7 separate regions of the Homo sapiens genome follow, and regions 1, 2, 3, 4, 5 and 7 are each reported to be linked to region 6. Evidence: microRNA targets listed by miRTarBase, many of them from high-throughput screens and not tested one by one. Region 6 holds a microRNA gene; each other region holds the end of a gene's coding sequence. Distances are between the middles of the regions.
What was found. Region 6 holds the annotated microRNA hsa-miR-6875-3p (AUUCUUCCUGCCCUGGCUCCAU, at 2,950-2,971, shown strand). A microRNA usually pairs through its seed, bases 2 to 8, with sites in the 3' UTR of a target mRNA and lowers its output. Matches are read on the target gene's strand: a 7mer-m8 pairs with bases 2 to 8, a 7mer-A1 pairs with bases 2 to 7 and ends in A, and an 8mer does both.

Region 1 (4,066 bases), not on the chromosome of region 6:
TTTAATGAAAGTTCTTACCTCATTTCCCACCAGAGGACCCACACTGGAGAAAAACCCTATGACTGTAATCACTGTGGGAAAAGCTTCAATCATAAAACAAACCTCAATAAACATGAGCGAATTCATACAGGAGAGAAACCTTATTCCTGTTCTCAGTGTGGAAAAAACTTCCGTCAGAATTCTCATCGGAGTCGTCATGAAGGAATCCATATAAGGGAGAAGATATTTAAGTGTCCAGAATGTGGGAAAACCTTCCCAAAGAATGAGGAGTTTGTGCTTCATCTGCAGAGTCATGAGGCTGAGAGACCATATGGTTGCAAAAAATGTGGGAGAAGATTTGGTCGGCTGTCAAACTGTACCCGGCATGAGAAAACCCACTCAGCCTGTAAGACCCGAAAGCAGAAGTAATACTGGGAACCCTTTCTGGGTCTGATGGTGCTGCCTCAACCTGAGAGCTTTCATAAGTAGTTCTGAATTCCCAAGCTGCCTAAAAAGGTATAAATGTGTAAAAATCTCATTATTGCCAAAATTGGATAAATGCCCATCTTAGCTAAAACCTCAAATTGCTAGAAAATTCACAGGGAAGAAAACATTTCAAGGGCTATACCTCAGCATCTAGGCTTTTTGGACTAAGGAGCTTTCCTTTTTGAAGTTATATGATAATGTACAGGTCACAGATCCCCTTTCCCAACACTTTGAAGATGAATCTGGAGTCTGCTTACTTGGAAGGCAAAGAGTGACTTGTGTCTATTGAAAGTATATCCGTTTTCCCCCCACATGGGGATTCATACTTGAGAAATAGTGCAAAGATGCTTATCTGGAACTGTGTTCTGGTGAAAGAACCAAATTACTGGCTTGTTAGCCAACAGCTTCTGATAGCAATTCATATAACCCTCTAAGAATACCTGTTTAAGTCTTGAGTGTTGAAAGGAATTGTTTACTTTGGAATATAGGAAAACAGTTGAATGTCAGACTCTCATTTGTATGTGATCTAAATTTGCAATCAATTTCAATAATATTTACAATTTGTGATAAAACTGACTTTTACAGATTCCTTTTCACAACATAATTTAGGTGTCTACTGTTCTTATTGTATTTTGTTCTGCTGTTGATCTCTCCAGCAGCCGTCTCATGCTTCTCCCTTGCTAAAAGAAGTTTGGATTACTCAGGCAGGGCCATCCAGCCCCACCACTAGAAAAGCTCTTCAGAATCTTGTCCCTCTGTTGAGCCCAGATCTCATGTGCTACGAAGGAAACCCCAAGACCCAGAGAGGAAGGGTCAACCTGGAGGCAGGAAAAAGTTGGCTTGGATCCATGTCTCATCAATAACCTTACCATATGCTTAGGTCCCCTCTATGCTGTCATCAGACCTTTGGCAATGGGGTGGTCACTACCTCACAAGGCAAAGTGTTGTATGATTAGAAATTACGTCTCCAGTGGTTAGCTCACATTGCCTCTCAAGAGACAGGTTTCCAGGTGTCTTCATTGTAGTGGGTATTAATTGTCTTCAGCCTCTTGATATCCATACCTTCCTGTCCTCTGCCTAGAAGCAAGGCCAGCGGTGCCTTTACGGACTGATCGTGTGGTGCGATTTAGGGATTCTTCAGTTTTGCTTGCTTTAGGTTTCCAAAAGTTATACATTGGTGTTTTGATTGGAATAAAGAAATCCTATAAGCTATTTGGGAAAAATTATAGTGTATGTTTCCCATCCAGAAACATGCCTTTCTATTTATTAGAGTATTATATTCCTGTGAAAATTTTTCTAATTTTCTTCACTTGTTTTACACAATTTTGTTATTGTAGTTTTTTCCATTATATTTTTATAGTTGATTATTGCTTTTACATGGGAAAGTTATTTTTAATTATATATTTGTATAGTCATCTCACTGTTGTTAATTTTCAATAGTTTGTTGGTTTAGTTCTGTTAACTTTTGGTAAAATGACACCATCTACAAAGAATAGTTTTTGTTTCTTGCCTTCTGCCTATTGGTCTTTTTTGTTTTGTTTGTTGTTATTAACATGTAATTCTGAGGTTTCTTGTTTTGGCACAAAGCATTCTGAAAGAAGGACATTCTATGATACAGTTCAGTCCTGAATCGTAATTTAAAAACAACAAATCCTCCACAACAGAGAAAGGCCACAGAAAAACTGTCTTTACCAACATTGTATTTCAGGCCAACAGGAAGTACCCTGTAAAGCCAGCAAAGCGAACAAAACAGGCTGCCCACAACGTTATTCGCTTATTTGAAAGTCTGACCAGTGCACTAGGACTGGGATCCTGAACTGTGTTTCCAGAGTCGGCAGGCTGTTACCATGTGCAGTGGACCTGCCTGTGCACCCAGAAAAGTAGCTGCCAGGAAGTGAGTGGTGAGAGAGAGTCTCCACTCACTCTTTGGTACCCCTGCCCAGAGTCGGGTATTTTATCAGTCCTCATGCAGCCATGGCACAGTACCCGAGACAGTTAATTTTTTCTTTGAGACTGGCTCTGTTGATAAGGCTGGAGTGGGGTGATCTTGGCTCGCTGCAACCTCCCGCCTGCTAGGCTCAAGCGATCTTCCTGCCTCAACCTCTTGAGTAGCTTTTCGTTTAAGTGTAGGTGGGTGAAGCCACCACAACCCACACCATCTCATGTGTAGGGGACCTGCCCATGCATCCAGAAAAGTAGCTGCCAGGAAGTGAGTGGTGAGAGAGAGTCTCCACTCTCTCACTCTTTGGCAGCCCTGCCCAGAGTCGGGGGTTACATCAGTTCTCATGAAGCCATGGCACGGTACCTGAGACACTTTTTTCTTTAGTTGAGACTGGCTCTGTTGCTAAGGCTGGAGTGGGACGATCTTGGCTCACTGCAACCTCCACCTCCTAGGCTCAAACAATCCTCCTGCCTCAGCTTCCTGAGTAGCTTTTTGTTTTTTTAAGTGTAGGTGGGTGAAGCCACCACAACCCACACCATCTCCTGGACTGGGGAGGTGCCCACGGTCAGGGTTGCCGTCAATCAGCACCCAGTGTCCCAGAGGGCAGGACATGGGCCGCAGGGTTTCCTTCCGCAATAGTGAGGCTGGGTGGGAATGAGAGGAGCGCCCCGACCAGGACCAGGGGCCGCCCCCAAACACGAGAGCCCCTGGGAAGTTGTTGGATGAGTAAGTTCTGTTACCTAAGGAGCCTGATCACCAGTTAAGTTGAAAAAGTAAACAACAGTGAACAGTTTCCCAATATAGCGGTAGAGCGAGAGTTGGAAAATGTAAGAGACCAAAGATCCAATTCCAGTAGTAACTACAGAAAATAAGCCAGGCGCAGTGGCTCACACCTGTAATCCCAGCACTTTGGGAAGCCGAATCAGGAGGATGGCTTGAGGCCAGGAGTTCAAGACCAGCCTGGGCAACATAGTGAGACCCTGTCTACGAAAAAAAAAAAAAAAAAGATTTGGTTGAGTGCAGTGGCTCAACGCCTATAATCCCAGCACTTTGGGAGGCCAAGGCAGGTGGATCACCTGAGGTCAGGAGTTCAAGGCCAGCCTGGCCAACATGGTGAAACCCCATCTCTACTAATAATACAAAAAGTAGCCAGTTGCGGTGGCAGGCATCTGTAGTCCCAGCTACTCAGGAGGCTGAGGAAGGAGGATTGCTTGAACCCGGGAAGTGGAGTTGCAGTGAGCCGAGATTATGCCACTGCACTCTAGCCTGGGCTATAGAGTGAGATACCATTTCAAAAAACAATTATTTTTAAAATTTAAAAAACATTATCAAGACGGCATGGTGGCATGTGCGTGTAGTCCCAGCTACTTTGGAAGCTGAGGTGGGAGGATTCCTTGAATCCAGGAGTTAGAGACCAGCCTGAGCAACTTACTGAGACCACATCTTTTTTTTTTTTTTTTTTTTTTTTTTTTTTAAGAAACAGGGTCTCACTCTGTTGCGCAGACTGGAGTACAGAGCTGTGATCATAGCTCACTACAGCCCTGAACTCGTAGACTCAAGAGATCCTTCCGCCTAACTCTCCCAAGTATCTGGGACTACAGGGACATGCCACCTCACCCAGCTAATTTTTTTATTTTTATTTTTCTAGAAACGCGGTCT
Region 2 (4,066 bases), not on the chromosome of region 6:
CACCCACCTCAGCCTCCCAAAGTCCTTGGATTACAGTTGTGAGCCACCGTGCCAGGCCTTCACCCTGTTGAAATTATTCCTTTTAACCCTCCAGGAGGGAGAACTTACTGTGTAAATGTATAAAGCCTGAGAGTATAAATGACAGGGAGACAAACTCTGCCCAGAAAGCTGAGGCTTCTCCCAGGGTAGCAGGGGCAGGGTAGCCTCCTGTAGAAGAGACATTCATAGGGACTGAACTGACCAGCTTGACATCCCTCGGTCCAGAATCTATGGGCCCTCCTTCCTAGGACCACCAAGGCCCTGTCTACTGGGGTTTTAGTGTCTCTGCCTATCCAGGCTGGAGACTTCAGAATGGGTTGCAAATTGGGAGATTAAGGATAAAGAGAGAGATGCTCCAAGCCCTGGGTCTTTGTGGGCAAAGAATTTCACTCAGCAAACTGTGTGGTTACTGCCCTTTGCAGGGCATCTTCATTTGGGGAAAGACATGAAATGCTAATGGCCAAACCCCCCCTCACCCCCACCACCTTCAGGCCGAACACCGCAGTGGGGGGAAGATGCGTAGAGGTGGGGGAAGAAGTGTGCAAAGAAAGGGCCTGGATGGGTGGGGGTCCCAAAAGGACCTAAGCAGCAGGAGACCCCCAGGAGTGGGCTTTAGGCCCAGCAGCTCCCCCTTCTCAAGGTGAGTCCAGAGGCCATTCTGGAGTGGGCCTGGGTACCAGGCCCTGGGTACTCCTTTTGGTACCAGGCTGGCCTCCTGATTCCTGAGGCGTTGGCTCGGCACCCCATGGGGGACTGCCCTCCTCCAGGCCTGGCACAAAGCCAGGGGGCTAAGAGCAGTCTGCAGGACAGAGGGCAGGACCACAGCAGGGAGGGGGCTCCTATGCCAGCTCCCCCTCATGCCATATGAGGCCAGGCCTGTGGCTCGAAGCCCCTGAGCTGGGCATGTCCTGAGAGTCTGGGACCATCCAGGGGCTGCATCTTCATCCTCAGCCCTGCGTAGCCTTCTGCCCTCCTCCCAGGGCTCGTCCATTCCTTCAGCTCCAGCGCCTCCTCCACACGTCCATGCCTTCCACCTTGCCACATGGAGCACAGCCGTGCCCCCACAAGCCAGAGGGAACAACGAAGCTGGCAAGAAAGAACAGCAGTTAGAGCAGGGGCAACAATGGAGAAAGGAGTATCTATTATGAGCTTGGGCATTTTACACCAGCACTTCCCAGCCTTTTCCATAAACATGGAAAACATTTTTTGCATACGTACTGTGGTAAAGGAATCTGCTTCCTCCCAGGCCCCCAAGACCTGAGGGATCAATGTGGATCAATCCTCAGCACAGGGGGTCTGCCTTATACCCCACTTCTCAGCTAAACCCTAACTACAATGTGGGAGGGCATTAACAGGACCATCAAAGTGGGGTATGGCACTAGATGGGGCCCCAGGCTCACTAGGACTCTCTACTGTTGAAGACATCTGCAGGCGGGTAAGGTCGCCTAGGAGGTGGTAGTGGGGAGAGAAGGATCTAGGTTTCCACTGGAAAAATTAAGGCTAGAAGGAAGGCTAAATCCTTTCTCAGCCCTACTCCTACTTCTCACAAGAAGGGAGTGGCATCTGGGGAAGAGGGCACAGGGCTGAGAGCCAGGGCTTCCAGATTCTATTCCTGGCCCCTCCCCTGGGCCTTCCTGACCACAAATCCGCCCCCCACTCCCTGCCCTACTGCTCATAGAGGATTAAGACATCACAAATAACAACTCATGACCCCATCCTGCTGCACCCACCCACCCTGCCCCAGTGCCCCATGCCCTCCTCCAGCTTCTCCTTCCCTGGCCCAGCCAGGCCTGACTGGCACTCAGGGGCAGGTAGACAGCTAGGCCCCCACCCCTTGGCATCAGTGGCCCAGCCTCTGGCGCAGTTGCCTATCCTTCAGCTCCCTTGCTCTCCTAACAGTGAGCCCTAGGGCTCAAAACCCACTGTCAAGAATGGGGACCAGGTGTGGTGGCTTACACCTGTAATCTTAGCACTTTGGGAGGCCAAGGTGGGCAGATTGCTTGAGCTCAGGAGTTCGAAACCAGCATGGGCAACGTGGGGAAACCCCAAATCTACAAAAAAAAAAATTAGCCAGGCATGGTGGCGTGTGCCTGTAGTCCCAGCTACCTGGAGGCTGAGGTGGGAGGATCGCTTGAGCCCAAGAGGTTGAAGCTGTTGAGGCTGCAGTGAGCCATGACTATGCTACTGCACCAGTCTGGGCGACAGGTAGAGATCCTGTCTCAAAAATATATATATAGGCTGGGTGCAGTGGCTCACACCTGTAATCCCAGCACTTGGGGAGGCCGAGGCAGGCAGATCACCTGAGGTCAGGAGTTCAAGACCAGCCTGGCCAACATGGCGAAACCCCATCTCTACTAAAAATACAAAAATTAGCAGGGTGTGGTGGCAGGCACCTGTAATCCCAGCTGTTCTGGAAGCTGAAGCAGGAGATTTGCTTGAGCCCAGGAGGTAGAGGTTGCAATGAGCCAAGATCACACGACTGTACTCCAGCCTGGGTGACACAGCGAGACTCTGTCTCAAACAACAACAACAACAACAACAAACCATACACACACACACACACACACACACACACACACACACACACACATATGTAGAGGAGGAGCTGGATCCCTCAGGCCCAGTCCAGCCAAGGCGGCCCACTGAGGCCCCACCTTCCACTGAGGCCCCACCTTGGGAGCCGGACTCCTTGGCTCTATTTGCAACCCTTGATGGTGCCTTCGCCATCTGGGAGATACTGTCTTTCTACATCAATTCAATGCTCAAACTTTATGACAAGCATTCAACCTAGAGGGAAAGAGGGTCGGCCTCCACGATCCGCGTCCCCACCCTCGGTTGTCCTCAGCTGCCAGAAAGCCGAAGTCCAGGAGCCCTGCTCTGCGTGGAAAGCAGAGGCCCACAGCCTGGGGCAATGTGCAGGCCAACCTCCCTCTACTTCCTTCCACCTGAGTCAGGGCTGAACCAACTTGAAAGAAGGCTCATCTCACCCAGGTATCCCCCTCCCAGGGCTTCCATCTTCCTCTCACACACCTGGATCACATTCTGGACCGGCCAACCTGGTGCCTCAGGGGAAAGTCCGGATCTGCTGGGTTGGCCACTGGCCCAAGCCTCCCATGCCCTCAGTTGGCCCCAGGAACCTCCCCCCTAAGATGTCCGGCTCTGAAGTAGAATGCTAGTCCTCATTCTCTCTGTAGGGGAAAGAGAAGGGAGGGAAGGAGAGAAGAGGGCCCAGTCCCCCGGGGGCTTACCTGCCTTGACCTCAGCACTGAGGTGGTGGGTAGCATGAAGGAAAGATGGTGCGCCCGGTGGTTTAGGACACGAGGGTCCCGGTCCCGAGGCTCTGCCGGGCCCGCACTGTCTGGATGGCCTGCTGGTTCTTGAACTTGACCAGGCCTAGGGTGATCTGGGCGTTCCAGCCGGGATCTTCCAGGGGGCAGCGGAAGTCGATCTCGCCGCCCCCTTCGGTCACCAGCGTGAAGTAGATGTGGCGCCCGGTGCTCTCCACGCACTCCACGGCCTTGATGCGGGCGAAGCTGAGCTCCTTGGGCCGGCCGCCCGTGCCCTTGGCCTCGAAGAGCTGCAGCCCGCGTTCGGTGAGGACGCAGCGCTTCCGCTTCCACAGCTGCAGCAGCCCGCCGCTGCGCTTCTCCAGCACGCCCTCCTTGAGCACGGTAGCCGTCGCCGCCGCCGTCATGGGCGCCCCGAGGTTCGCGGAAAGCTCCAGGCTGCGGCGGGCGCGGCGCCCCTCTCGGCCCCGCAGCGCAGGATTCTGGCGCCCCGGGCTGGCAGGCCGTGCGCGCTGCCCACCTGCGCCCTGACTGCTCCGCGCACCCACACCGCGGCCCTCAGCACCCGGCTGCCGGTGAGGTGGTGTCGGTGCCCCCAGCGCGCTCCGCGCCCACCGCCCCGCTTCAGCCGGCACCCGCTCCTCCGCTCTACCCCAGCTGGCCCAGCCCGACCCGCCTCTGCCAGATGCCTCCGCGCCTCCCTAGGCCGTGAGCCCCACCGCCCGCCCGTTCTCTTGCTC
Region 3 (4,066 bases), not on the chromosome of region 6:
ACCCTGGAAACCACTACTCTACTTCCTGTCATTATGTGTTTCCCTATCCTTGACATTCAATGTGAATGGAATCATGCAATGTGTGCTCTTTTGTAACTTCTTTCTCTGAGCGTAGTATTTTGAAAGTTCGTTGATGTTGCAGCCTGTGTCATTGTGTCATTCCTTCTCATAGCTGCAGAGTATGCCATGTAAGATGTACCATGTTTTGTTTATCTGTCCATCCATCGATGGACGCTTGGGTTAGGCCTACCTTTTAGCCCTATGAAGATGCCATTCTCCAGCAAGGCACCCTATTTCTCTATGCCAACTCTGTAATGATTATCTTTCCACCAGGAGGAACAATGTGGAAAGTCCACTTTGTGACGCCTGTGTTCCAGCCAGAGGGAGCCGGTGCCTGCTATGGAAGAAAGGTCTGCCCGTGCTTTGGGGAAAAAGTAGTCCACCACGATCCACCTTTGCTCTTTGACCTCTCAAGAGACCCTTCTGAGACCCACATCCTCACACCAGCCTCAGAGCCCGTGTTCTATCAGGTGATGGAACGAGTCCAGCAGGCGGTGTGGGAACACCAGCGGACACTCAGCCCAGTTCCTCTGCAGCTGGACAGGCTGGGCAACATCTGGAGACCGTGGCTGCAGCCCTGCTGTGGCCCGTTCCCCCTCTGCTGGTGCCTTAGGGAAGATGACCCACAATAAATGTCTGCAGTGAAAAGCTGGAGCCCCGATTCCTAAATTTTGTCACTCAAATTGAAACAAACCAGCTGGCCATGGTGGTTGTCATCCCAGCACTTTAGGAGGCCACCACAGGAGGATCACTCCCGTGATCAAAACCAACCTGGGCAACATGATGAAACTCTAGCTCTACAAAACAAAAATAAAAAAAAAATTAGCCTGCATGGTGGCACACGCCTGTAGTTCTAGCTTCTCAGGAGGCTAAGGCAGGAGGATCATTTGAGCACCGGAGTTGGAGGCTGTACTGAGCTATGATTGTACCACTGCACCCCAGCCTGGGCAACAGAGCAAGACCCTGTCTCAAAAAAGAAAGAAAACAAAAAAATGAAACAAACTTCAGTGTCATGTTAAGATATCTATTTGCATAAGGATGAATAGTTTCCCCCTGTGAAAAACAAAGGAAAAGGCAAGAGAAAGTAGAAATGAACAATAAACACTGGCCAGGCGCAGTGGCTCACGCCTGTAATCCCGGCACTTTGGGAGACAGAGGCAGGCAGATCACTTGAGGTCAGGAGTTCGAGACCAGCCCGACCAACATGGTGAAACCCTGTCTCTATCAAAAAAAAAAAAAAAAAAAAAAGCAGCAGCAGCAGCCAGGTGTGGTGGCACACGCCTATAATGCCAGCTACTCAGGAGGCTGAGGCAGAAGAATTGCTTGAAGCCGGGAGGCAGAGGTTGCAGTGAGCTGAGGTCGTACCACTGCACCCCAGCCTGGGTGACAGAGCAAGACTGTCTCATCAAAAATAAATAAATAAACAAACAAACATTAATAATGCACCGTTGAATGATCACTCAGACACCAAACTGGAGAGGCAAAGTATCTCCTGCAGTCGGGGAGGAGTCTGTCAATGGACCCCAGCTCAGTCTGGAAGAGGCTGCCCTGTAGCCCAAAACAGCACAAGTCCCAGCAAAGGTGTCTCTGTGACCTACAGGTTTGCACATGAACAGGAGATAGGCCCCAAAGATAAAAACTGGCACTGATGTGGCTTTGTCTGTGGTGCCCATTTATAGTGTTTGTTTATCGTTTACGGCCACAAGGATGAGCCGTGCTTCCCGTTGGAACTGTTTTCAAGTGGTTTTCCTTTGTCTCCAATGCCCCAGGTGATTTGGGCAAACTCTGGCTGTGGAAGCCGCGCTGTGCAGGAAGTGTTCGCCCCAGCTCTGAGCTGCAAGGTCATTGCATAATCAGGCTGCGCCTTAATTGTCTGGGCTGCTAGAATGAAAATACCATAAACTGGGTATCATCAAGAATATTTCTTTCTTGCAGTTCTAGAGGCTGGATGTCCAAGACCACGGCGTGACGGAAGCTGTGTCTGGGGAGAACCTGTTTCTCGGTTCACAGCTGCTGCCTTCTTCCCATGTCTTCACACGGTCATCCCTCTGTGCCTGTCTGTGTCCTATCTCTGATTCTTGTTTTTTGTTTTTTGTTTTTTTTTGAGATGGGGTCTTGCTCTGTTGCCCAGGCTGGAGTGCAATGGCGTGATCTCAGCTCACTGCAACCTCTGCCACAGGTTCAAGTGATTCCCCTGTCTCAGCCTCCCGAGTAGGTGGGACTACAGGCGTGCACCACCATGCCCGGCTAATTTTTGTATTATTTAGTAGAGGTGGGTTTTCACCATGTTGCCCAGGCTGGTCTAGAACTCCCGACCTCAAGTGATCCGCCCACCTTGGCCTCCCAAAGTGCTGAGATTACAGGCGTGAGTCACTGCACCCGGCCCTAATCTCCTCTTCTTATAAGGACCCCACTCCTATTGGAATAGGGCCCACTCTTGTGACCTCATTTTAAAGGATGAATAAAAACCTTATTCCTGTGAGTTTGAAGGCAACACAATTCAGTCCCCAGCACATTCTCCCCTGGGAGTAAGGAGGTCTTTCCAATAGCTCTTTCTGTCTCCAGATTCAAGCAACAGGTCCCTCCTCCCACTCTTCCAAGCCTAGGTATGTGACGAGCAATGCCCCACCTTGTCACCGCCTCAAGAACATGTCCTCAAATTATCCAATCCACATCAGCCTCCAAGAATTCAGGCTGTGCATACAGACCAAAAAGTCAAATCCATCTCCAGCCAATTCTCTTGGGTCAAGAAAGAAATAGTAGGCCAGGTGCGGTGACTCACATCTGTAGTCCCAGCACTTTAGGGCACTAAGATGGCTTGAGGCCAGGAGTTTCAGACCAGCTGGGGTGACATAGCGAGACCCTGCCTCCGCATAACATTTAAATAATTAGGTGTGGTGACACGTGCCTATAGTCCCACCTACTTGGGAGGCTGAGGCGGGAGGATCACTTGAGCCTTTGGCCTCCCAAAGTGTCCAAGGCTACACTGAGCTGTGATCGTGCCACTGGGCGACAGGGCGAGACCTCATCTCTAAAAAGAAAGGAAGGAAAAAATGGCAGGAAGGAAGGAAAGCAAAGAAGCAAAAAGAAAAAGGAAGAAAGGGAGGGAGGGATGGCAGGAAGAACCAGTTAACCCCTATGGCTTTCCCCATAGCCATGGCTTATGGAACAAGACCAGCACTTTGGGTCAGCTGTGCCCGATGTTCCCGGCCCACAGAGTCACCTTTAAGTTCTTCAGCATCCACTGGGGAGAGTCACCTCTGTCTCCACACTTGCCCACACTCTTGAGCTTGATGGCTTTGAAGCCAAAGTCCCCATGGAGGCTCCATGTGCTGAAAGTCATGTGAGACCCTCAGGGTCAGGGCTTACCCACCCTTTCCATCCCCACAACCTCCCGCAAATATGACTTCTGGAGCACCAGCTCCTACTGCCCCCAGGCCCCATTTCCAAATCCTGGGCACCCAAGACAGCTCAGTGTGTTTACATAATTTACCTAAGGGCACCCAAAGTTCTTTTCTCTCTAGTTCTCAGGAATCTCAACTCCCAGCAGCATAGGATTTCTTCCAAGGATCAAATCTCCGCGCCACCCCTGCTAAACCTCCTTGCAGAACTGCTTCTGGGCTGTCTCCTGCCCCCCTCCTTCCAGGCCTCGGCCTGGCCTTCTCCATCTGCATGACAGAGGCTCAGCAAGGAATCCCAGTTGGGAAGCCCTCAAAGATAAAAAAGTTCTTTTTTAAATTTTTTTAGAGACAGGGTCTTGCTCTGTCACCCAGTCTGGAGTGCAACGGTGCAATCAGCTCACTGCAACCTCAAATTCCTGCACTCAGATGACTCTCCCACCTCAGCCTCCCAAATAGCTGGGACTACAGGCACACCACCATGCCCGGCTAACTTAAAAAAATTTTTTTGTAGAGACAGGGTCTCTCTGTGTTTCGCAGGCTGTTCTCAAACTCCTGGTTTCAAGCAATCCTTCCCCCTCAGTCTCCCAAAGTGCTGGGATTACAGG
Region 4 (4,066 bases), 39 Mb from region 6:
TTAAAGTAGCATGCCCTGGGCATATATTTGATATAAAATAAACATCATGAATAGTATTAGTTTTCATTTAAAAATATATATAAAGGTGCATTAATTGCCAGTTTTAACTTAATGATAAGTTCTCTGTATGTATGAAGTGTTAAGAGATTTTCTTAATTGATTATCATAATAAACACTTTAATCCAAATTTACAAATGAGAAAACTAAGAGAAAGAGTTAAGTGACTTATTCAAGGTTACACAGCTGATACCTAAATGGCAGAACTTCGACAAAAGCCCAGGTCTTCTGCTTCCTTGCATGCTACACCAAGTCCCTGTATGACCATATTAATTACCAAGTTGAAGCATTTCTTTAATTGTGAAATTACTTTCACTTCTACAGTGGCATATCTCAGTTGAAACTAAAAAAGTCAGCATGTTTTTTAATGAACAGGTCCTCTTTTGCTCATGTTTGCTTAGAAGTGAAAATAATACTGCTAATTTCCTGGAGAAGATACCTTCAAGGGCAGAGACCACAACTGCAAATTGATGTTCCCCAACAGTACTAGGTAGTGCTGGGCACACAGTAGATGTTTGATAAATACCTGTTGATCCCATATAAATAAATACAGTAGACTATAATTGAAAAGGCAATAATTAGGATTATTTAAAAATAGAAAAGTATTCAAGCTAAGTAATTAGTGATAAAGATGGGCTTGTTTCCTCTGAGTTTATGATTTCAGTCAGAATCTTCAATTCTGTATGCTTAAAAATGAACTGATACTTATGAAGTTCAATGTATTTCTAGGATACTGAACTACTACAAACTGCCAACTTTATATTGTTTACATCACTCATCAATATTGAAAAGCATAATATTATGTGACATTGTAAATTATAATCCAATGGATCCCAGCTGAACAGTCACTTATTTGAAACAATACAGGAAAATTATCATCTATTCCTATTACTAAAGTTGCATATGTTAATCATAATTCTCAATTTTACATATTTGTATTTGGTTACAACTAGCTAAATGCTATCAGTGCTGTCTTCCTAAGTTGCTGTGTCTGTATGGTATAAATGAGGTTCTCTATTACTGTTAAGCCCAGGTACTCGCAGCAGCTACCACAAAGTTCAGCCATTTCCATGAGATAAAGGGATGCATTATGGCCAGTAATGTTATAAGACGTTTGACCAGGAGTCACTGGATCAGTGGCCGAATTTTCACCAATTCAGAAAAAGACACATGGATTCTATTCAAGTGGTTCTATTACCTCGCTGAAAGTTTTCTAACTTAGCCACTTATTAAGGGGCTAAAACTACTAAAAATGAATCCACAGTACCTTCACTTTAGAATTCCACACACGGGCTACTCCAAATTAGTACTTCTCAGCCTAAGGACACAGTGGATACTGGCCACAATTTTAATTCATAAAAATAAATTAAATTTCATTTTAATTCATAAAAATAAAGTTTAATTTTAATTTTTGTGACTAAAGAAAAAAATAGAAAATACTCAAGAGCTGTGAAAAACGTAAAGGAAAAAAGAAAACCCAGATCATGATATAACACGAAAAGGAAATTATAGCTCTTACACCTCGTATTTCTTAACCCAAAATAAAAACATGACTATTGTAACACCGACTCAGGATCTACAGAAAAGCAAAAATCACAAGAATATACTGTGTGGGAAGGTAGGGGAATCAGTCAAACCCAGATTTTTGACATCCTGAGATAAGATGACTCTACCCATCTTTCCACTGGTTTTGGCATAGTGTAGACAGGGTTTACACGGGTTGTTTATAGACACTAAGGATTTCCATAAAAATTCTTTTTCCTGATACCCAGATAAGATTCAGACTTTGGTCCAGTCACTCTGAACCAGAAAGGCTACTTCATAAACTATTTCATATTTATCCCATGACATTTTGGAATGGGGACACAAGAAGTATTTCTCTTTGAAAATATACATTTGAATGCAACCATGAAAGATGATGGTACAGACTTTTTTCTTCTTAGCAATTCAAGTGATACTTAATAGAGAAGGGTAAGTCCTGCTATCTTGCTGAGTAAAAAAAAGACAAATCCATAATATGGCCATATTTCTTCTCCATAAAAATAAATTTTATCTATTTGCCTATATTTTCTTTGTAGGAATTTGTAAAATGCTCTATTGTCAGACTTGGGAACATTTCTGCCCCACCCCCAGAAATCACTTATTTTTATGCCATGGATGGAAAAAAGGGAAAATAGAAGCTACTATAAGCAAATGAAAACTGGCATTTAGTAAAAATCATACATAAAGGAGATAAATGAATACCTTAAAGTTTAACCAGATACTTAACCTCAATATGTACTGGTCAGGTTAGGATAGATGGAAGAAACTGCCAAAAGCACCCATTTTACTCCAAATCCATATCTTAAGTAATTCTTTAGAAAATTAAGAAATAAAAAAAGTAAATACACACAAAAGATCTATTCCAACATGCTTGCTTCTATACAACTTAATGTAGTATTAATCCTATTATATTACGGCTTATGATGCAGATTTGAATATCCTAAATAACATTTCCCAACAAATCAGGTATGGAGCATAAAAGTATCATAAGGTATAACCTCTGCAGCAGGTGCCAGTCCTGTTGTCCAACAGCAGCAGTACGAAGAAGGCCTGCTGTAGTTACAAATGTACTTGGAAAAACTATAAACATGACAATTTAACCAAACTTATAATACTTTTCCCACAAGTAGGAAAAATATATTAAAGCTGCTCTCTTTGGGACCCAGATATCATCAGCAGAAATGAAAATGCAAAAGCCTATTTTTTTTAATGTTGAGAAGAAAATCACAATGTCAAACGAAATGAGAAATGAGGGATCTTTCATGGAGTTCTTACACATTGGCTACGAAAGTGTTTCCCTGCAAAGAGAAGAGTCTTACTGGGTCATCACAAAATGATGGGGAGTGCAGAGGGAAGGTGGGATATAAGGTAATCAACCTGGATAACAGTATGCACCTTGGATGTTAGCAAAAGCGAAGCTAATAGCTTATAAAAAACACATGAAATATATAAAATAAAATGATTTTCATATACATCTTAATTTAAAATAATTAATGCATCAAATCCCTGTTTAAGACTTTAACCTGAATATCAAATTTAAGAGTCCAGACTAGTTACTGTTACTGTGGCCCTTCCCCACATGTAACACACACACTATCAAAAATAATTTAAAAACCTTCACATTCTTACATCTAAATTAGTGAGATATTTCTCCAGAAATCTTCCAAATAAATAGCTTTAAAAAAAGAATTTAAAAGCTGTTAACTTTAAAAAAAAATCTGTTAAATAAATTATTGATAATTCTTTACCCTACCACTGAAAATACATCAAGACACTACCAACAACAAAATAAAATTCAAGCCCTGACAAGAGACCCTTTCCAGTTCAAGGTCTCTTTTTAAGGTTCTACCCTCCTTCTTCCTCTCCCCCACCAGGTCCAAAATGGTTATTGCTGAGTGGGTGTGGCACAGTGAAAATGCAGCATCAGGTTCATTCTGTTCTTCGGGCAGTGTTCTTACTATACACACAAACTGCTCCAGGCAGGGGGACAGCGGAAGCTCCAGGCTCCTGCACCCCTAGACTGGTCTCCAAAGGGAAGAATGGCTGCAACAGCAGCTCTGTCACACAAAGAAACGTGCATGGCCATTTCTGTTCAACTTAAGGATCTTCCCAAGACGTTGTTTGGCTGTTGCCATTCCTTTTTTTGGACGTTTACCTATAAAACACCAAAAGGGAGTGTAAGTAATGATGAAAAGTACACTTAAGAGAGCACCTGGAAGACTACGGGGAGAGCTTTCTTTATGGGAAGTAAGCCCTTAGGTGTTCTGCATGGACAGAGTCATACTTCTGAACTTCCGCTGTTTAAAACCCTTCCACCTCATCACACTAGGCCCTCACAAGACTCACAAGGCTTCCCACAGTCTGGTCTGCCTGCTCTTCAGCCTGGGCTCTTCCCTATCCTGCATTACACTATGCTTAGGCAACAAAACTGACTACCATTTCACAAATACCCCATATCCTGCTTCTC
Region 5 (4,066 bases), not on the chromosome of region 6:
AAAAAACAATATGATTTCGATGTATTTCATATTGATATTTATTTTTAAAGTATTAAAGAAATTGACAAAATAAATAACACCATATGATTTTTACATTTAAATAACAAACTAGCCTACAACAAGATAGATATTATCCCTGATTTACCTATGAGAAAACCGAGGGGTTTTTTTTTTTGCCCAAAGTGACCCACAGGTGGCACTGAGGATTTGAACTCAGTTTGTCTCACTCAGAGTTTAATGCTCTGTGTAACCATCCTTCTGTGCCTCCAGGGAATGATTTCAGGCATGTAGATCTGTGCTTTCAATGGAGTAGCCATTAGACAAACATAGCTGAGAACTTGAAATGTGACTAAATCCAGATGTGCTGTAAAATACACCCTGTATTTTGAAGACTTACTGCAAAAAAAAGTAAAACATCTCAAAAAATTTTAAATATATATCTCATATTTTGGATGTATTGTCATATATATATAAAATTAATTTCACCTGTTTTTAATATGGCTCTTACGATTTTCAACTGCTAGGATTTTTGCTTATCTATGTTTGTGTGCCATAAAATGCAATTCTGTCCTTATTGCATGAGTCCTCTTATATGAGGTATCTAAAATAGTCATGCTAAAAACATAAAATTACATGAGGCCCATGTTTCTATGTGTTGGCACTGATTTAGATCATTTCCACTTAGGTTCTGAGAAGTAAAATTTTGGAGTTTCCAAGGGAAATTTCCAGGAATTTAAAACATCAATCAGCTACACTTAATCCTTCTTGGTTTACTCTCTTCTGAACTTAATAAAGATAGACCTTAAATATCCTTTAGAGAAAGCATTTCATATTGAACAAATTGAGTGGTCATCTAGTAATCCTACAGATGGACTGGAGCATCTTATGATAAACTAATTATAGCAAAGACATAATGATTTGGTGATATTATTTTGTAGGCAGTTGCATAAATTCCTAGAGCCATTGCAGGTAGGGTGAAGATGGTGTATGTGTTGATCAGGAATCAAGAGTTGATCCAGAGATTTCATTTTGGTATGGGACATAAATCTCAGTATAGTCTCTGGGCTTCTTCTGATCATGATTTTCCAGCATAGTGTTAGATAACATAATAGATGTCAAATAATACAAATAAATGTCTTCAGATTGTAGTATAAAGACTCTAAATCCCACCACTGTGGTAGGCTGTGGGTTGGAAGGCTCCCTGGAAAAGCATATTTAAGATTCATAAAAGCAAAGGCAACTAGTTCCACTTTAGGCCTAAGAATGACGCTATGAATCTTGAACAGTCACAAAAATTACCTCTTCCTCAAGCATATGTTAATCAAAATTAAACCCTTAGTTATGAAAAACTCAGATTTTATTTTTTAATAAGTCTTTGTATAGACTTTCCAAGATTAGAGAAAATTCTGTTTGTAAACTGAGCTATTTAGCCGGCCTAAACTGGAAAGTAGAAGTAATCCTTTCAAAGCACGATTAGTGACTGCCTTCTGTGCACAGAGCAGTCTAGTGAATGCTCTGGAAAGTATAAAGGAAGCAGACAATACAAATTCTGCCCTCAGGGGTGGGATTTGTCTTATGTGTAGAGTTTGCTCTCTAGCATCAGTGAGTGAGTGTTGAGGTCTGAAAACAAGGGAATAGACACATCTTAGGTCCTTATTGGAAACAAGACTTCTTTGGCTCCATACTTTAATGGAAAGTTTACATGGAATCATGGGTACAATCCATTCTCAAGTGAGAAAGGAGCCATCAGCTCTGTGACTTTCAGGCTAAGCAACCTCATTCAGCAGTCTGCTTGGATAAATAAGGTCTTATTCTATCATCACTGCCTGTCAGCTGTATCTGTCATTTGGTGCCACTAACTTAGGCCAGATTAAACAGAAAGCAACCTCTGCCACAAAGCATCTCCCTAGGAAGAGATCACAACATAAACTAAAGCACTAACTCTCAAGATCCTGTTGTCACGATGATTCAGTTCATATATTATCTCTGACTTTTCTGAGATGATCTAATAAGTTCTAAGCAAAAATAAATATTTAATCTTTGATTAAATAACATTATTACTTAGTCTAGGGTGACTGGGTTACGTAGGATGGCTTGAAAGAGATAAGCCTTGGTGGACATCTTAAAAATTTAACTGAAGTAAAGAGCAACTGGTTTAGTTCCCTTCCCCTGGAGTGTTGTGGTGTTGAGAAGACAAAACTTTGGGAACAATCACAGGGGGGCTAGATAGACAATGCAAAATTGCTGCTGGAGAGACTGAGTGAGTAGATGTTAAATAACTAAGTGCGTGCTGGATGAATAATGTTCTGGATCCAAGAAAGACATACACAGGTAAAAAATGAATTCATGCCTTTTGTGTTGTTCAAAACTTGTACTTTATTTTTCTCAAATATTTTTACTTATGCTTTTTGTCATTATCCACAGTGTTTTTTTTTTAAAGCCTGAGCCACTTTGTGGTTTTAGCCTCAATATAATAATCATCCCCTTACTCTTAGACTAATTCCTTTTCCCCTGTCACTTTGCCTGTATACTCTGTAAAAATGAGGACCTTAGAAAATCAACATTTCCTGTGAACTTGAGAGACTATACAAGCAGTGCCCAAATCAGTAGGATTAGGCAGGTAAAACCAGTTGGATAGCAGATATATTATGATCTGTTGGACAAAGGTATAGTTGTGTGCATGTCTACAAGGTCATCGTGATTCGCCATTAGCTTAAGGATCATGTAGGTTGACCAGGGTGAGGTAGGACTATCCACAGGATTGTGTAAATTGTGGTAGGGGATGCAGTATACAATATTCATGAATTAAACACTTAGCTAACTGCTTTCCTGAAAATGGTCTGTGTTCTAAAAGACAAAGATCTAGGTTTTTTGCTGTTTTTTACTTTAACTTATGAAGATTCAAGTCACTAATATGTTACTTGCTCTGGTTTAAAATGAAAGCAACTGGCTATGGTAAGGTAGAGAAGACAGCTGAATTGTATCAGAATATTTAAGACTTTTAAATTAAGTTCTGAGTTACCTCACCTTATAAAAATATATGTCAATATACTAAATACCCAACAAAGATCCAGGATGTGGGATATTTAAAAATACATTTCTCTTGTATCAGCACCAAAAATACCAGTTTCTGTACAACCCGTGTCAAGTTTTTAAGTATACACACATTAAAATTATTTCTGATAAAAAAATCACAAACTCCACAGAAATAATTAAAGATATATGCAAATTACTTTCAAATACATTTTGACATCAAAGTCAGGCAATTCACTTGGAAGAATGTTATAATGAATGTCACTGAATTTTTGTAGTAAGATGTTTGACGTCAACTTTGATTATGGGAATACATCTCACACACAGGAGGCACTGGTATTTAGAAACTTAGGAAAATTACTAGAATTGTTAAGACTGAGGTGAAGAATTTGTACAGCCTTCCACAATTTCAAAGAGGTAGTGATAGATACTTGTCCTCCTGGCAATATCAAATGCAGTTTCTTCCAAGTTGTTTTTCAGCCCTGGTTTGACGTAACGGTTCATCAGGAGGAGTTCTAGGGTATCCTTGCTGTCTCTGTTCCCAGCAGCAAGATGCAAGGGGGTCAAGAGGCCTTTTGTTTGGGCATTGATATCTGCATCATGCTGCAGTAAGAAAGAAGCCACTCTGGTATTATTCCACTTACAAGCACTGTGCAGGGGCGTCCAGCCATCCACAGTCACTGCATGAACATCGGCCCCCTGTGCAATGAGCTCCTGAACAATATCTAAGTGTCCACTGTAGGCTGCTCGATGAAGAGGGGTATACTCATCTTCATCCCTAGTGTTCACGTGAGTGGCCTTTTCAGAAAGGAGTCTCCGCACTGTGGTAAGCTGAGAAGAAAAAAAAGAAATCTTTCAACTCAACTCAAACCAAAACAATAACTAAAACAAAATTGTCTTGTGGTGTTAGATTTAATTAAGTTGAATAAAAACTTACTTGTTAGTAGATGACTTTAAAATGAAAATAATTTAAGATCTCTTTTTGGGGAGGAGAGGACTACTGATTTAAGAATGAACAAGTTAGTGTTAACTA
Region 6 (4,066 bases):
TATTTTTAGTAGAGATAGCATTTCACCGTATTGGCCAGGCTGGTCTCAAACTCCTGATCTCAGGTGATCAACGTGCCTCAGCTTCCCAAGATGCTGCGATTACAGGTGTGAGCCACGGTGCCCTGCCTGGTCCATTTTTTCATCTTCCCATTGCAGAGTCTGGGACGCTATTACCCTGGGGATTCAGGTCATGAGCTTGGCTGATCAGGGTGTCTGGTTTGCACAACAGAGTCAAACTCGCATCCCCTGCCGTGAAACAGATGCCCCGCTAGAAGCCGGGAGTGGACAGCATCCTCCTCTCCATAGAATTGGAGTGCTCATTAGTGGCAAGAATCCTAAGGCGAACTTTGCCTGTTTAAGTGGAGGAGATTAGTCACTGAGATAATAAAATAAATGCATGTGAAAGTGTTTAGGAAAAATGAAAAGTCTTTATGCAAATATGCAGAATGTTGCCGTAAGAGCCCGTACACAGTGGGAATGTCATACCTATGGCTGACGCACCTTGCTGTCAGTGTGTGGGAGCGTGGTGTAAACTTAGCCTGTGAGCCTGACTCCTGTCTGTTCCTGCCTTCCCCGCTCTGCCCCCAGGTGGCATGAAGCCCAACACGTTGGTCCTAGGTTTCTACGATGACGCTCCACCGCAGGACCATTTCCTGACGGACCCGGCTTTCTCTGAGCCTGCAGACAGCACCAGGGAGGGCAGTTCCCCAGCTCTGAGCACCCTGTTCCCTCCTCCCCGGGCTCCTGGGAGCCCCCGGGCCCTCAATCCCCAGGACTATGTGGCCACGGTGGCCGACGCCCTCAAGATGAACAAGAATGTGGTGCTGGCCCGGGCCAGCGGGGCCTTGCCCCCTGAGCGGCTGAGCCGGGGGTCTGGGGGCACCTCTCAGCTGCACCATGTGGACGTGTGGCCCCTCAACCTGCTGCGGCCCCGGGGTGGGCCCGGCTATGTGGATGTCTGCGGCCTCTTCCTGCTGCAGATGGCAACCATCTTGGGCATGGTGCCCGCTTGGCATAGCGCCCGGCTCCGGATCTTCCTGTGCCTGGGGCCTCGGGAGGCGCCTGGGGCGGCCGAGGGGCGGCTGCGGGCACTGCTGAGCCAACTGAGGATCCGGGCTGAGGTGCAGGAGGTGGTGTGGGGCGAGGGGGCCGGGGCTGGGGAACCCGAGGCGGAGGAGGAAGGGGACTTTGTGAACAGTGGGCGGGGAGACGCAGAGGCAGAGGCCCTGGCACGCAGCGCCAACGCCCTGGTTCGGGCCCAGCAGGGGCGCGGCACAGGAGGAGGGCCGGGTGGGCCGGAGGGTGGGGATGCTGAGGGCCCCATCACAGCCCTCACCTTCCTGTACTTGCCTCGGCCGCCAGCCGATCCCGCCCGATACCCCCGCTACCTGGCGCTACTGGAGACTCTAACCCGAGACCTGGGCCCCACGCTGCTGGTTCATGGGGTCACTCCAGTCACCTGCACTGATCTGTGATGCCCCTGCCTCCAGGGCTAGGTAGAGAGGGCCCAGGCAGGCGGCCTATCCTGATCCTTGGAGGAGGAGGAAGAGGAGGCCACTGTGGCCCGTGGCCCTGCCCTTGGGACGTGGAGCCCAGGGGAGGTTTGAAGGGGATCCTGGGCTTGGGCATCACGCCCACCTCCTTTGGCAGAGGGACCCCAGCACACTAACTCTGGGTGGCTGTCCCCACCGTGCAGGGGAGGGAGTCCGCAGCCTCCCTTCACTGGTGCCTTGATGCTAGGGGCCAGGCCTCCTCTGTGACTCTGGGCTACCTCAGTTTCCCCATTTTGGCCAGACTCACCGGCCCACTGGGGTGGTGATGTTTTCGTTCTGTTTTATTTTTCTAACTCTGCTGACCATGAATAAAAGACCAAAACACTACAGGCTGGCTGAGCAGTGCTGGTGGGTAGCTGAGAGGGAGGGGGTGGGAATGGAGAGCTCTGCAGAGGGGTGGAGATCGGAGCCTTCAGCCTCCCGCCGCGAGGCTGCCACGTGCAGGGCTGGGGTGCGGGGCCCGGACGCATCCGTGGACTTGGAGGCTGGCTCGGGCCCGCACCTCCCATCCCCAGCTGCCCGCAACCCCCAGTGACTCGGGATCCCCCGGAGAGCCCTCCCCTCTCGGCAGGAGGGGGCTGACTCAGGGAGAAATGGCAGTTTAGGGCCTAGGGGGCCACGTGACCCTCCCCCAGGAATGTGGTGACGTCATCGGAGGCGTGGTCGTCCCCAAAATTAGGGAGGAAGAGGAAAAAAAAAAGCCAGAAAAAGTTTTCTTTTCTGGAGTCCCAAACGAGGTGCGGGACGGAAGAGGGGGTGAAGGCCAGAGGCTCGGGGCTTCAAGACCGCTGTCTGGAGTCCCCCTTTCCAGGCCATGTCGGGGCCCACCTGGCTGCCCCCGAAGCAGCCGGAGCCCGCCAGAGCCCCTCAGGGGAGGGCGATCCCCCGCGGCACCCCGGGGCCACCACCGGCCCACGGAGCAGGTAAGGCAGCCCTTGTGAGACAGAAGAGCCACCCAGCTGTGGCGCTCACCTCTGTCCTACCGCTCCAGCCTCCCGCCCTGGCTGCTTCCTCCTGCCCCTTCCCCAAGCCGAGGCGGGGGGAACAGCCGCCTGCGCTCTCTTGGGACCCTAGATTTGGGGGAGGAGGTAACGAGAGGCGGAGAGGGTGGCTCCTCAAATATACACCCCTCCTGTCCTCCGCCACCCCACCTTTGATTTCTCTTCCCTCAACCCAGCACTCCAGCCCCACCCCAGGGTCAATTTTTGCCCCCTTCCATCTGAGCAGTGTTACCAGGCCCCAGGGGGACCGGAGGATCGGGGGCCGGCGTGGGTGGGGTCCCATGGAGTACTCCAGCACACGCAGGTGAGACCCGGGATCGTGGGGTGGGACATGTGGGATCCCCCAGAACCGAGTCTGAGGGACCCAGGACAGGAGAAGGCCTATGGTGATTTGCATTCTTCCTGCCCTGGCTCCATCCTCAGGGGCTCCCTGCAGACAGGGGGGGCCTTCGCCCTGGAAGCCTGGACGCCGAGATAGACTTGCTGAGCAGCACGCTGGCCGAGCTGAATGGGGGTCGGGGTCATGCGTCACGGCGACCAGACCGACAGGTGACTCTGCCCCTCCTCCCCGTCAGCACCCTGCCCCCTTCTCTGGACTCTCAGACCCAGCCTGATCGATCCCCCATGTGTGTAATGTGCACCCCAGCATGGAGGAAGCGTGGCTGCAAGTACCAACATGTCAGCCACTTGAGGACGGGACCTTGTCAAATGCAAAAAGCCTGTGCTTCCCCACAGCCAGGGTCATTTCCACAAATGTGGGTCTTGGAGTGGGGTCCTTGCTTACGACTTCTGGCCTGCGTTTCTCCTCAGGCATATGAGCCCCCGCCACCTCCTGCCTACCGCACGGGCTCCCTGAAGCCAAATCCAGCCTCGCCGCTCCCAGCGTCTCCCTATGGGGGCCCCACTCCAGCCTCTTACACTACCGCCAGCACCCCGGCTGGCCCAGCCTTCCCCGTGCAAGTGAAGGTGGCACAGCCAGTGAGGGGCTGCGGCCCACCCAGGCGGGGAGCCTCTCAGGCCTCTGGGCCCCTCCCGGGCCCCCACTTTCCTCTCCCAGGCCGAGGTGAAGTCTGGGGGCCTGGCTATAGGAGCCAGAGAGAGCCAGGGCCAGGGGCCAAAGAGGAAGCTGCTGGGGTCTCTGGCCCTGCAGGAAGAGGAAGAGGAGGCGAGCACGGGCCCCAGGTGAGCCCTGGGGAACTGGGATTTCAGGCCCTACAGACAATGGGACACCGACTGGGTGGGGTGGCTGGTGGTGTTTTAGGGGGCTTTTTTGTTTTTTGAGACAGAGTTTTGCTCTTGTTTGCCCAGGCTGGGGTGCAGTGGTGCCATCTTGGCTCACTGCAACCTCTGCCTCCCGGGTTCAAGTGATTCTCCTGCCTCAGCCTCCTGAATAACTGGATTACAGGCACACGCTGCCACGCTTGGTTAATTTTTGTATTTTTAGTACAGACGGGGTTTCACTAAAACCCCAGTTTGTTGGCCAGGCTGGTCTCGAACTCCCGACCTCAGGTG
Region 7 (4,066 bases), not on the chromosome of region 6:
CTTTTTCTATCTAGTTAAAAGATACATTAGAAATAATGATGCCTTATGATGTCCTATCTTTGAAAAATATGATTTGGGCATAAAAAGTACATATCAGTCTTGCAGTAGTCCAAGTTTTGAAAATCTGAGGATTAAAAATTATTTTCTAAATTAACTTGGTCCAGCAGATTGACATTATAAAATACAGGTTACCATAAGTTTTGCTGGAGAATATTATCTGGAATAGTTTCATGAAACCCAGACAATACTACTTTCCATTAATTCTTTTAATATATTATTCTAGCCTATGGCCAAACATGCAGTTTGGTTGCATTTTATGAGCATTTCACAATAAAGATCATATTTCTAAATACAGTTCACTGTCAAAGAAAAGGTATTAAAATTCTTCTTTTAAAAAAAATCATAGATGGACCTAGCCATCTCTCATACAGCTTGTGCATAGTTTTGTGTGTTTTTTTTTAAACATTCATCCATCCACACCCTTTAAATACCATGCTCCACAAGCAGGCAAACATTAAATATATTCCAGATGGGAATCAACAGCTGTTCAGTTCCTCTCTCTATAAACCCGTGGTTGGTGTGGCCCTCTGTCATGAATGTTGAATTTTGCAGAGAGAAGGAGGAAGGAAAGATGCTAGATAAAGAGCACCCCACCCTAAAAAGAAATTTTTTCTTTTTAAAAAGTCTCCTTTATTCGAAAAGAGGCAGACTGGTTCCTGGGGTTACTGCCCTTCTAGGGGAAAGTGCCACATTTAATAAAACTTATTTTTTTTTTTTTAGGGATGGGGTCTTGCTATGTTGCCCAGACTGGCCTTGAACTCCTGGGCTCAAGGGATCCTCTCGCTCACTTTTTTTAAAGTGAAAGTTTGCTTTCACTTTAAAAATGTTAGTGGAGAGTCACCAGGAATTTTGCATAAATGAGACATAGAGGAGCAAAGTGTTCATGAAAGACTCGGTCACATGCTGACTGACATGAGTCCTGCATTTCCAACGTGGTAGGAAGAAGGGAAGGAAGACTGTTGCCACTAGAGGTTTGCAAAGCCCCTTCCTAACATTCTTAAGGAAGAAGACTGAAAGGTGGCATTCAAACACAACAAAAGGGATATTTTTTTTTTTTTGAGACAGAGTCTCGCTCTGTCGCCCAGGCTGGAGTGCAGTGGCACGATCTCGGCTCAGCGCAAGCTCCGCCTCCCAGGTTCACGCCATTCTCCTGCCTCAGCCTCCCGAGCAGCTGGGACCACAGGCGCCCACCACCACGCCCGACTAATTTTTTGTGTTTTTAGTAGAGACAGGGTTTCACTGTGGTCTCGATCTCCTGACCTCGTGATCCGCCCGCCTCGGCCTCCCAAAGTGCTGGGATTACAGGCATGAGCCACCAAGCCCGGCCTTTTTTTTTTTTTTTTTTTTTTTTTAATGAGACAGAGTCTCCCTCTGTTGCCTAGGCTGGAGTGCAGTAGCGCAATCTAGGCTCCCCCCGCAGGTTAAAGTAATTCTCCTGCCTCAGCCTCCTGAGTAGCTGGGATTACAGGTGTGTGCCAACACGCCCAGCTAATTTTTGTATTTTTAGTAGAGACAGGGTTTCACCATGTTGGTCAGGCTGGTCTCGATCTCCTGACCTTGTGATCTCCCCGCCTCAGCCTCCCAAAGTGCTGGGATTAGAGGCGTGGGCTACCACACCCGGCCAAGAGGGATTTTCTTTAAGCAAGCTTTCACAGTAGTGGAGTTAAATGATGTGGGCTAAAAGGTGGAGGCAAAAAAGCCAAAAAGAAATGGGAAAGGACATGGCAGGATGGGAAATTCCAACATGAGCTAATATGAGTGTGAGAACGATCATTTGCAGGAGAGTGAAAATCTCCCGCAAAGGTAGATAAAGAGCCACTTTGTGTGTCCAGTGAGAAAGTGGACTGTGAGTAACCTATAAGCTGCTCATTGGAAACAAGAGGGCCCTCAACAACGTTACAAAGGAGCAGATCATCCTTCTGGTCTCTTGCTCCTGGTGCTTCTGAATCCACAGCAAACCTTGGCAGGAACATGCTTCCCTTTGCCACCCAGAGGTGCTCTGAGAAAACACTCTAACTCACTAGGAGGTGGAGATATAGACCTTTTTCTGAACTGCTTCTCACATGCAGGGGAAAATAAATCAAAGAGAAGGCCTAAAAGAACTGGAACTTGGACTAAATTAAAGAAAATTAAGAAAAAATGAGAATAGGAAGGAAGTTTTTGCAAACAAGGAAAACCACTATTTTTTTTTCTCCCCATCCAAGATAACTTTCAATAGTGTATTACTCTCAATATGTTGGTGGCAAGCTTGGTTGGCTCCAGACAAAAACTTGTAATACCCAAGGAGAAAAAATTTACCTACCGCTGCTGATGGCATTAGTGAGGTCAGCCCAAGCCAGCAACCTCCTTGCAGACTTCAGCCCCACTGTATATTGGTTCAGCCTGGATCATGGCACCTAATGGTACCTTCTGGGCACCTGCTCAGAACCAGGAATTCTGCACCTCTCTCTAAGCTCAGCCAGTTTATTGAACAAATAATCTATATTTATAGAGCAGACTCCACTGTTGATTAAACAGCTTTAAAATATTATAGCAAACGAGAGCCCATTGTTTTAATGTGAATCCAGGCATTTCACTTTGTTTTTTTGAAAAGAGAGTTTAATCTTCTTCCCTAAATAGGATACTTACAGATAAGCATGGCATGAAACCTTAAGCACCGTATTTGAATTTTAGAATGTGGCAATCTATATAACAGTAAATATATGACTGTGATTCTTTTCTATCTTCTCTAAACGCCATTCAATTCTCTCCTCTCTTTAATTGAATTTGGGAAACAAGGTTTGACAAAGGGATACAATATTTAAAGTCTACTAGAAGCACAAGGAAAAAATTCTCCACCAAAGCACATCGACACGTTTGTCCTCCCCACCCCTTTTTAACTGAAGAGCCCCAATTTTGATACTAGAGGAGTTATGGTCTATTGTGAACACACATCTTAGAAGTAGCCTCACATTTTCTTAGAGCTCACTTTGTCATTTTCCCCCTTTTGATACTCTGCCAAATTTAACTTCAAGAATTTATGATTTAAGACACTGTGAGAGTACTTAAATCCAAAGTTCCTGGAAAAATAGGATGTAAAAGAAAAGTTACAATGCAAACCACCCCAATGGACTCTTAGTGAGAAGCAGGTAAATCAATCATTCACTCCCTCATGTCTGCAGGCCTAGGAGGGGACTCTGAAAATAGCATCGTATTTGGAAGAAGAGGAGTGGAGAGACGTCAGGAGAAGAGAAGAGAAAAATGTATGTTTTCTAGGTCTCCAGTGGTCTTTCTTCTCTTTAGATGGTTTAACTGCAGGTGAGTTGATCTTTCTCTTCCTTTGGCGTGACGGTGTTGGGATGTGCTATGGGTAGAAGTCTCTGGGGGCTCTCAAGTCTCTTGTCTCAGTTCTTCTTGGATGGTCATCTCCAGAGCCCAGGTCCATGGCTTCTGGGTAGCTGGGAAATTCCTGAGGTAAAGGGAACTCCTCTGCTGAAGAGTGAGTCCGGTGCCCGAACACCTTTTCCTGCAGCTCAGTGATGTCATTGCGGATGTCAGCCAGCATAAGTAGCAGGAAGTCGAAAGAACCAGGGGGTCCCTGTGTACATGGGAGGAATCAAAGCTAGAATACGACAGACAGCAATGGCCTCCGGGGCTCCATGACTTGACCTGCTGCTTGCTGGCAACTACTTTCTCAATAACTCTGTGCCCCAAATGGAGCCAATGTGAGGACTGCTACAGGAGCCTGGGGGTCCTCCATATTGTTTTCTAATTCTGTCACTTCTCAGCTGAGCTTTGGTGATGTATTCACCTTTCCTCCCTCCTAACGCTTTATCAAATCCAGTAGAGGAAAGGATATAAGAATAACTCTCCTAGGTTACTTTCCAAAGCAGTCTGGAAGATGCTTATGAAGGCAGCAGAGCAGTGGTTAAGAGACTGGGGTTCTGTTGGATTTGAATCTCATCTCTGCCGCTTACTAGCTGTGTCATCTTAATTTCTTGTGGTTCAGTTTCCCCATCTGTAAAAC

Region 1: miRTarBase lists ZNF200 as a target of hsa-miR-6875-3p. Seed matches in the 3' UTR shown: 8mer at 582-589.
Region 2: the mRNA of PHLDA3 is a reported target of hsa-miR-6875-3p. The part of its 3' UTR that is shown has no 7-base or 8-base seed match.
Region 3: miRTarBase lists ARSL as a target of hsa-miR-6875-3p. The part of its 3' UTR that is shown has no 7-base or 8-base seed match.
Region 4: the mRNA of KDM7A is a reported target of hsa-miR-6875-3p. Seed matches in the 3' UTR shown: 7mer-m8 at 3,454-3,460, 7mer-A1 at 2,084-2,090 and 7mer-A1 at 1,990-1,996.
Region 5: the mRNA of ANKRD49 is a reported target of hsa-miR-6875-3p. The part of its 3' UTR that is shown has no 7-base or 8-base seed match.
Region 7: miRTarBase lists CCBE1 as a target of hsa-miR-6875-3p. Seed matches in the 3' UTR shown: 7mer-A1 at 3,329-3,335 and 7mer-m8 at 2,665-2,671.

Annotation. Positions count from the first base shown.
Region 1 is chr16:3,220,234-3,224,299 of GRCh38, reverse strand. It overlaps ZNF200 (zinc finger protein 200), which reads left to right. Exons shown (of 5, transcript NM_198088.3): 5 at 1-1,975. The coding sequence ends at 408. Among named protein-coding and RNA genes, the nearest start is that of ZNF200, 13 kb to the left of the region's middle.
Region 2 is chr1:201,465,054-201,469,119 of GRCh38, forward strand. PHLDA3 (pleckstrin homology like domain family A member 3) reads right to left here. Exons shown (of 2, transcript NM_012396.5): 1 at 3,288-4,066; 2 at 1-1,125. The coding sequence starts at 3,733. The coding sequence ends at 3,350. Among named protein-coding and RNA genes, the nearest start is that of PHLDA3, 2.1 kb to the right of the region's middle. RefSeq lists enhancers at 3,315-3,374, 3,445-3,584, 3,806-4,066, 4,035-4,066 and a silencer at 3,655-3,964.
Region 3 is chrX:2,931,458-2,935,523 of GRCh38, reverse strand. ARSL (arylsulfatase L) reads left to right here. Exons shown (of 11, transcript NM_000047.3): 11 at 334-1,003. The coding sequence ends at 692. Among named protein-coding and RNA genes, the nearest start is that of ARSD, 4.2 kb to the right of the region's middle.
Region 4 is chr7:140,087,435-140,091,500 of GRCh38, forward strand. KDM7A (lysine demethylase 7A) reads right to left here. Exons shown (of 20, transcript NM_030647.2): 20 at 1-3,754. The coding sequence ends at 3,660. Among named protein-coding and RNA genes, the nearest start is that of PARP12, 27 kb to the left of the region's middle.
Region 5 is chr11:94,497,869-94,501,934 of GRCh38, reverse strand. It overlaps ANKRD49 (ankyrin repeat domain 49), which reads right to left. Exons shown (of 3, transcript NM_017704.3): 3 at 2,357-3,864. The coding sequence ends at 3,403. It also overlaps a transcript of MRE11 not described here. Among named protein-coding and RNA genes, the nearest start is that of ANKRD49, 5.9 kb to the right of the region's middle.
Region 6 is chr7:100,865,131-100,869,196 of GRCh38, forward strand. MIR6875 (microRNA 6875) reads left to right here and starts at 2,906; the gene lies at 2,906-2,977. SLC12A9 (solute carrier family 12 member 9) reads left to right here. Exons shown (of 14, transcript NM_020246.4): 14 at 589-1,880. The coding sequence ends at 1,475. TRIP6 (thyroid hormone receptor interactor 6) reads left to right here and starts at 2,257. Exons shown (of 9, transcript NM_003302.3): 1 at 2,257-2,476; 2 at 2,731-2,858; 3 at 2,978-3,103; 4 at 3,365-3,736. The coding sequence starts at 2,368. RefSeq lists silencers at 1,905-1,994, 2,355-2,504 and an enhancer at 2,945-3,044.
Region 7 is chr18:59,432,505-59,436,570 of GRCh38, forward strand. It overlaps CCBE1 (collagen and calcium binding EGF domains 1), which reads right to left. Exons shown (of 11, transcript NM_133459.4): 11 at 1-3,637. The coding sequence ends at 3,404. Among named protein-coding and RNA genes, the nearest start is that of LMAN1, 75 kb to the left of the region's middle.